Linked DNA regions of Homo sapiens: region 2 is linked to region 1. The links come from fine-mapping of genetic effects on gene expression. A gene starts in region 1. The other region holds a variant in brackets. All regions are shown on one strand. Distances are between the middles of the regions.

The links. PIP is the estimated chance that this variant, and not a neighbour inherited with it, causes the effect.
Region 2: its variant is the best candidate, but not a certain one, in a credible set for the expression of NAA16 in whole blood (INTERVAL, PIP 0.56).

The regions. Positions count from the first base shown.
Region 1 is chr13:41,309,268-41,313,667 of GRCh38, reverse strand. It overlaps NAA16 (N-alpha-acetyltransferase 16, NatA auxiliary subunit), which reads right to left and starts at 2,401. Exons shown (of 20, transcript NM_024561.5): 1 at 2,086-2,401. The coding sequence starts at 2,139. It also overlaps a transcript of MTRF1 not described here.
Region 2 is chr13:41,336,307-41,340,706 of GRCh38, reverse strand. It overlaps NAA16 (N-alpha-acetyltransferase 16, NatA auxiliary subunit), which reads right to left. Exons shown (of 20, transcript NM_024561.5): 9 at 3,951-4,057. Among named protein-coding and RNA genes, the nearest start is that of NAA16, 27 kb to the right of the region's middle. The variant A/G (reference allele first, on the strand shown) is at 2,503.

The DNA of each region.
Region 1 (4,400 bases):
GAATAAGACATGCAGATACAAGCCACGTGGAACACGTAAAAAACCAGCTGGTCAGTTTGTGTGGATGTGTTTGAATTTTTTCAATAGAAAAAATTTTACTGTTGGTGGCAAAGCACTTTAATCCACTAAACTTTAAAGATAATTTTATTACAGAGACTTCTGTTTGCTATGGAATTTGTTGTAGCCAAATTTTACCCACATTTATTGCAATTGTGAAATGATAAAATCATTCGTTTATGCAGAATCCTCCTAAATTCACGCAACCTTGTCAGAAACATTACATACCTAGATTTAAAAATGTTTAGCTTGGCTGAGCACAGTAGCTCACATCTGTAATCCCAGCAATTTGGGAGGCTGAGGTGGGAAGATCGCTTCAAGCCAGGAATTCGACAGTAGCCTGGCCAACAAACCGAGACTTCCATCTCAAAATAATTGATTTTTTTTTAGTGGTTACCATTTCCCAATTTATTTGGGGATAAACCCTACCTTTTTTGTAATTTAAGAATAATAATGTAACTTTTTCCTTATGACACTGATCCATGATTTGAACTACAAAAAACTCGTATAAAGAGAAAAGAAGTGCTGTCATCTTTAAAGTATGATGCCAAATGTCCTGAAATCCAACTAGCGATTTATAAATGATATTATCATTAATGTTTCAGATTCCCAGGGCAAAAAAAAATTAAAAATAAAAATAAATAAATTACTTCTCCAATTCCATGCTGTGTAAAATAAAAGGGCATGAGAAGTAAAATAAAAAAATACAAAGCCCAATGAAGCAACCTGCCACGTGCTTTAATTATTCGTATTTTTAATGTTCTCACATTTGTATCTTATTATTGGTTCAAAACTAAGCACCACATAATATTTAAAATTTTTATCCCATCTACTATGTATCCTAATCTGAAGACTAAGTGTGAAGTTTCTATCGTCTTGAAACAGAACAGCTACTATGAATTATCTGCCGCTGTTCATACTTAAAATTACTCTAAAATTAGTATTTTATTTATAGTAAAGTTAAGCAACAACTAACAGCCATATAGCCAACCCAGCTTTCAATAAATTCACCTTTAAACCTAAATGCATGTTTAGCAAATAAAAGCTTTTTTTCAGGTGAAAAGATAAACTAGAAAAGACAGTTACCTACTAACAATATTAGTTTAAAACCTAGGGTAGCCAGAGGATACTGAGGAAAGCAAAGGAATGCTGCCTCTTCTCCTTGGAAGAACAGAACCTGGAAAGCTACCAGGGACGCTGGCACACAGCCCACAGAAAACTGCCCACCCGGCTCCGCAGCGGTCATCACTACGGGGCCATTATTCAGGCTTCTGCTCCGCGATAAAGTAAAAATGCTCCCCTCAAATGCAAAACCAGCCAGTCCACGCGGCTTTAATTACTCAAGCAAGGCCTGTGCGACTAAAAAGCAAACAGCTGTTTTGAAGTTGGTGACAACTCAGAAACGCACTTCAAGTCAAATATTCACTTCCAAAGAGGTAAATAAGGTACATTACAAACAGGCAAACTTTTTCCCAAAGGGAGGTGGTGCCAGGCCTGGCTTCCTAAAGTTGCCGGTTTTATTTCCTCGTAACCAGGAAAAATTCCACCATCGCATCGATCCCGCTTTAATAGGTATGCGGGTGTGCTGTGCAATCTAACTAAACGCAAAGCAGAGAATGCAGAACGCAAAACACCTAGCCGAGGAGAGACTGGCAAAATAAACCACCGGGGGAGGATCCCTGAGGGGCTGCTGCGAGCCCGGCGCGGCAGAGAGCACGGCAGCCACTACCGGCCGAGGCGGCTGTGCCCGGGCACTGCGGAGAGCGGCGTGAAGTTTCTGGAAAGAGCGCGGCGGGGGTGAGGCGAGCCGCAGAAGACCGCGGAAAGGAAGCGCACGGAGGAGCGGCTCGGCAGCCCCCGTGGGCCGGCCGGAGCGGGAAAGTGGGGTCCCGCGACCTCCGAGGTAAACAAAGAGCGGTGGGCAGCGGAGGCCAAGCCTGGCCCGCGCCGGCCGCCGCCAGACCGCTTGCCCTTAAGGCCCGAGGACCCGGGGACCGGGGGGCGGCAGCGCGGCCTACGGCCACTCACCAAGATGCGTTTGAAGAGGTTGCTCTCCTTGGGCGGCAGCAGCACGTTCGGCATCGTGGCCGGCAGGGAGGCTAGGTGGCCGGCAGGGAGGCTAGGTGCCCGGGCGCTCCGCTTCGCGGGGGTGGGCACCGGGACGAACCGCTGCTGAGAGTCGGGCTGCGGGCGATGGATTAGTTCATTGGTCTACAGTTGCAATTGGGCAGCCTGGCTGTTCGGCACGGGTGGCAATGGAGAAGGAAGGCGGTCTGAGCAGGACACGCTTCCCCTGGGCTCCGCTTTTTGGCCAGCGGCGGCGGCGGCGGTTCCCGCGCACTGCAAGATGGCAGCCAGGGTCCGCCTCCCGAGCCGGATCCTGTGCGCATGCGCGGAGCGCCCTTTGGCGAGGGGCTGCGGGTGACTACGGGGGCGTAGCGGGGACCAACCGCGTGGATTTGCCTTGTGCTGCGGCTCTCCTCGCCGCAATCTCGGCACCCCCTGGGGCTCAGGCGAGCTGTCACCAAAACCTTGGAGTCCCATGGGGTGGTGAGTCACCACCCTCATTCACCATTGCTCCTATGCATCAGAACGCCTCATAAGACTCCTACTTATTGTCTGCTTCTCCTTGCAATAAAGTAATAAATAAAAACGAGAATTTTCTTTTAAGTAGAAAAGAGAAGACACTGACTTGTATTGCACTCTTGATAAGCTTGTGGCGCAAGATAATGTTAGTTATGACTCTGAAGAGTCAGAGTTTTTTGCATTTCTCCCCATTTAGGAATTTAAGTGTCCGATGCAAAGTAGACTTTTGATGAAAGATGAACTTGTTTTCTTTCCTTTTCCTCCTTGATTCAGACTCTAAGTAGAAGCCTTCTCTTTCCAGGGCAAACCAAACAAACATTTACAATCTTTGTTTTTGTTTGGTTGGTTGGTTTTGAGATGGAGTATCGCTCTTGTCGCCCAGGCTGCAGTGCAGTGGCGCTATCTGGGCTCACTGCAACCTCCGCCTCCTGAGTTCAAAGGATTCTCCTGCCTCAGCCTCCCGAGTGGCTGGGATTACAGGCATGCGCCACCACACCCGGCTAATTTTGTATTTTTAGTAGAGACAGGCTTTCACCATGTTGGCCAGGATGGTCTTGATCTCTTGACCTCGTGATCCGCCCCCGCGTCAACCTCCGAAAGTGCTGGGATTACAGGCGTGAGCCACCACACCTGGCCGGAATTACGGTTTTATAAGGCCACTGGTCTTCTGAGTCTACCTACCCTTTCTCTTCAGATGGTTCCCCTTCCTGAAAGCCATATAATAATGGGAGAAACAGGCTTCAAATTCAGGATCTTCCAACTCTGGGATACTCTCTACAACAAATAAAAGGCAGCATATTGATGGTAATGTGTGAGTCTAGAAAGATACAACAGTGGCAAGAATAAACCATACATTCAGTGTAGGGTTAGTAGTAAGGTGTGTGTAAACATTAGGTACATAAGTTTATTTATACATGTGCTGAATCTTAATGGGTGCATATTTCTGAGACTATAAAGTAATTGATGAGTAACTGCATTTAGTCGGCTGTAATCAGAACTGGGCTGCCCTTTTTTATTTTCCTTTTTTTGAGACGATGTTTTGTTCTTGTTGCCGAGGCTGGAATGCAATGGCGCTATCTCAGCTCCCTGTAACCTCCGCCTCCCAGGTTCAAGCGATTCTCCTGCCTCAGCCTCCCAAGTAGCAGGGATGACAGGCATGCACCACCACACCTGGCTAATTTAGTATTTTTAGTAGAGACGGGGTTTCTCCATGTTGGTCAGGCTGGTCTCAAACTCCCGACCTCAGGTGATCTGCCCACCTCGGCCTTCCAAAGTGCTGGGATTACAGGTGTGAGCCACAGTGCCTGCCTATTTGATTTTCCTTCTTTCTAGCCTAAGTTGGTTGGACATGAAAGAATCATAGGAGTCTTTTTTTTTCTTTCAATCTCCTACGTTTCACACATGATTTTAAAGCATCATAGGAGTCCTTTAAAATAGGGAAAGTACTGTCATTAAAATTGGGGGTCCACAGCAATCCCATTGCTGGGTATATACCCAAAAGAATATAAATTGTTCTACCGTAAAGACACATGCACAGCCAGGTGCAGTGACTCACGCCTGTAATCCCAGCACTTTGGGCGGCTGAGGCAGGCGGATCACCCTGAGCTCAGGAGTTGGAGACCAGCCGGGGCAACATGGCAAACACACACACACACACACACACACACACACACACACACACACTAGCTGGGCATAGTGGCGAGTGCCTGTAGTCCCAGCTACTTGGGATGCTGAGGTGCGAGGATCAATTGAGCCTG
Region 2 (4,400 bases), 27 kb before region 1:
GAGACTCCGTCTCGGAAAAAAAAAAAAAAAAAAAAAAAAAAAAAAAAAAAAAAAAAAAACTCACTCAAAACCGCACAACTATATGGAAACTGAACAACCTGCTCCTGAATGACTACTGGGTAAATAACAAAATGAAGGCAGAAATAAAGATGTTCTTTGAAACCAACGAGAACAAAGACAAAACATACCACGATCTCTGGGACACATTTAAAGCAGTGTGTAGAGGGAAATTTATAGCACTAAATACCCACAAGAAAAGCAGGAAAGATCTAAAATCGACACCTTAACATCGCAATTAAAAGAACTAGAGAAGCAAGGGCAAACAAATTCAAAAGCTAGCAGAAGGCAATAACTAACTAAGATCAGAGGAGAACTGAAGGAAATACAGACACAAAAAACCCTTCAAAAAAATCAATGAATCCAAGAGCTGGTTTTTTGAAAAGATCAACAAAATGGAGAGACCCCAAAGCCTCACTCAAAGACTGGCAATTTTTTTTAAGTACTTTTCAAAACAAGTAAGCAAATGTATATCATCTCAGCAAGTTATCTGTTATGGACAGGACACCTATATAATGGATAATAAGAAACAAAACAATATTAACTTTAACAAAATCTAACTTAAAAGGGATATAAATATATTTTTAGTAATATTTTATTCTTATTTATAAAAGACAAGAACACCTTGATATCAGAGTTTATAGAAGATTCTATTTCAACATTAAAGAAAGCTGGGAAAATGAGAATTTCTCCTTTTCTTCACCAAAGATTTCTCCAAAACCTCACTGACAAAAGTAAAATGAGTGCCATTTCAAATACCTACCTATGTTTTTAAAAACCTTATGCAACTTAGTCGGGCACAGTGGCTCACACCTGTAATCCCAGCACTTTAGGAGGCCAAAGTGGGTGAATCACTTAAGGCCAGAGTTTGAGACCACCCTGGTCAACATCATGAAACCCTGTCTCTACTAAAAATACAAAAAATTAGCTGGGCATGGTGACAGGCACCTGTATTCCCAAGCTACTTGGGAGACTGAGGCAGGAGAATCGTTTGAACCCGGAAGGCGGAGGTTGCAGTGAGCCGAGATTGCACCACTGCACTCTAGCCTGGGCGACAGAGTGGGACTCCATCTCAAAAAAACAAAAACAAAACAAACAAACAAAAAAAAGTTATGGAATTTGTCTGACAACCACTCATTGCCTTCCACTCTACCCAAACTCTAGTTTGCCAAAAAAATTTAAATGCTGGAGACATTTAAGAAATACATTTCGGCCAGGCGCGGTGGCTCACGCCTGTAATCCCAGCACTTTGGGAGGCCGAGGTGGGCAGATCACCTGAGGTCAGGAGTTCAAGACCAACCTGACCAACGTGGAGAAACCTCGTCTTTACTAAAAATACAAAATTAGCCGGGCGTGGTGGCACATGCCTGTAATCCCAGCTACTCGGGAGGCTGAGGCAGGAGATTTGCTTGAATTGGGAGGCAGAGGTTTCGGTGAGGCGAGATTATGCCATTGCACTCCAGCCTGGGCAACAAGAGCGAAACTCTGACTCAAAAACAAACAAACAAACAAACAAACAACAACAACAAAAACAAGAAATACATTTCTTGCAACTGTACTACATTCTAAACTAACTTCAAAAGACAATTTCATTTTCATGATACCAACATGAATTACTCTTTAATATTTGGAAACTTACAAACAATAGCTGTTTGTCATACTTCACCTCCTTGAAATCCTTCCTCGAAAGTTAAAAATCCAGCTAACTACTAAAAACAGGTCTTACTGCTGCTTAGAAATGTGCAGTTTTTAAAATGGCTTCCTGGGGTGCAGTGCACACTGCTCAGGCGATGGGTGTACCAAAAATCTCAGAAATCACCACTAAAGAACTTATCTGTGTAACCAAACACCACCTACTCCCCAAAATCTATTGAAATAATTTTTTTGAAACTACAAAAAAAGTCAAACACAAAACTTACAAAATTTAATTGAAAAATAAATATTAAAAAATAAAATAAATAAAATGGTCTCATGAGTAAATCACAGATACATGTGGCCAAAATTATTTGAGAAACAGTTCTTAGACTTGCAAATTTTTTCTCACTATACTAAATTCAGATAACTGGAGCTCAATTTTCTGCAGTTTAATTCATTTTGCAAACACACTTGGTGTTCTGGCATTTCTAATAATATAGCATTCCTGTTGCTTGCTTTAAAATTAACACTAAAGAGATGGTTCCTGTATGAATTAGTGTATTCTCAGTGCCTTATTCAAAAACATAATTTTCATGCTTTATATAAAATACCAAAAAAAAAGTTTAGCATTTTTGTAATGGCAACTTTGGATCAATATTAGAAGAATTTTTAAAAAGTAAAAAGCCTATGCCTATGAACAACACCCTGTGAAAGCCCCGTGATAGCTTAAGAGAAACAAATCCTTTAATGTCCACTGTAGTCAGTAGCTGCTGCAATACTGTTATAAAAGAAGTACTCTAATTCACATAC[A/G]TAAGATTTCTTTTTATTTCTGGCATTTCATCTAACCTTTCTTCTCTGTCACCCTCACCAAAAAGAACAAAAGAATTTTACCCAATGTTAAATAATCTAGAGAAATTATTGGCAGGCACCGGGTACATGTTTACACAGAAATCAATCACTATCTCTCAAAAAACTGACAACAGAAACACTGCAGTCAAATAGACCATACAACAGACATTAAGGAATTGTAAGGGTTTTTTGGGTTTTTTTGTTTTTTTTAACATAAATGATGTTTTTTTCTAACTGGGTACTAGATATCATCAGTTGTTTCTTTTGTTTATGAAACCTGCTGCCACAGGTAGGAAAATGCCAATCAGCTATATCTATAACTGATGTTTCCAACATTGTATTATTCACAATTACTGCAAATTTACAAATTATTATGAATCAAAGCTAAATAAATATGACAGAAGCTTAACTAAAATTTTTTTGGCATTTCTAATAAAATCTTTTCCTTATCCAGTAGTAACTTTAAAAAACTGACTATAGAAAAGACAACAAGATTTTAGACTTTAATAAGAAGCAACACTTGGAAATAAAAGTATAACTTGCTTTCTATTAACTTTTAATTATCTTTCTAATTTAAGACCAAGATTTAAGTGCCTATTTTCGAAATTTTTTTTTTTTTTTTTGAGACGGAGTCTCGCTCTGTCACTCAGGCTGGAGTGCAGTGGCGCGATCTCGGCTCACTTCAAGCTCTGCCTCCCAGGTTCACACCATTCTCCTGCCTCAAGCTTCCGGGTAGCTGGGACTACAGGCGCCCACCACCACGCCCGGCTAATTTTTTGTATTCTTACTAGAGATGGGGTTTCACCGTGTTCGCCAGGATAGTCTCAATTTCCTGACCTCGCGATCTGCCTACCTCAGCCTCCCAAAGTGCTAGGATTACAGGCATGAGCCACCACACCTGGCCTATTTTCTAATTTTAAAAAGCAGAAAGACAATTCTTTATTCAAGAACTAGCTAAACCTGTATTTATTAAAATGTAGCCTACTGATTAAACCTAGTAATTTGTACCAGTAATTTGACCAAATTGCATTTTACTGTTGCACTAACTCAATTATCCAAGCTCTAACTTTAAAAGCATGCATAACTAATTTAAAAATCCATAACTGTACCATAAAATAATAATCACAAAATAAATATATACCTTTGGTAACAATGTCAAATTTAAAATCCTACTAAAAAAAAGTATACCTATTAAAAATAAACAACCTTTATAATCTTAGTGCTTTCATAAACCCTTTACTTTGATATTACTTATACTACAGGCATGTAATTTCAGTACATGACTGAAAGTAAGGTAACATTACTGAAACAAAGAAAATGATTAAGTAATAGCACATTATTTACATGGACATCTTTCTACAGTTTAGTAAAAAAGACTATAGCAAATCTGAATAAATACCAAATTTTACCTTTTCTGTATTGTAATATAAAGATTTCAAAGTAGTAAACAAGGGTGGGCAGCCTTTACTGAAGTTAACCCTCAGGAACTTATCCATTAGTTCTCTAAATCTTTCACCTAGAAACAAAAGCGTACTTTGTTATTCTTTGGTTCACGCAAACAATTCTTAAAATGATTTTCTAAATAAAAATAAAGCTCCCTCAGAAGCAATTATGCTCCTATCCAATTTATAAACCCAAAAAGTCATAGTTTTAAGTAAAAGTTATCAACTATCCATTCTGAATTTAGCACAATATCAAATATCTTTCCTAATCTCTCACTGACTAGCACACTCAGTCTACAGCTCAAAACCCTGCAGATATGCATAAAGCACTCTGCAGCAGACTACCAGCACTATATTCAAGTGATAGCCAAAAGATCTTTTTAAACACTAAGCTGGTGTTTACAAATGTTTTCCCAA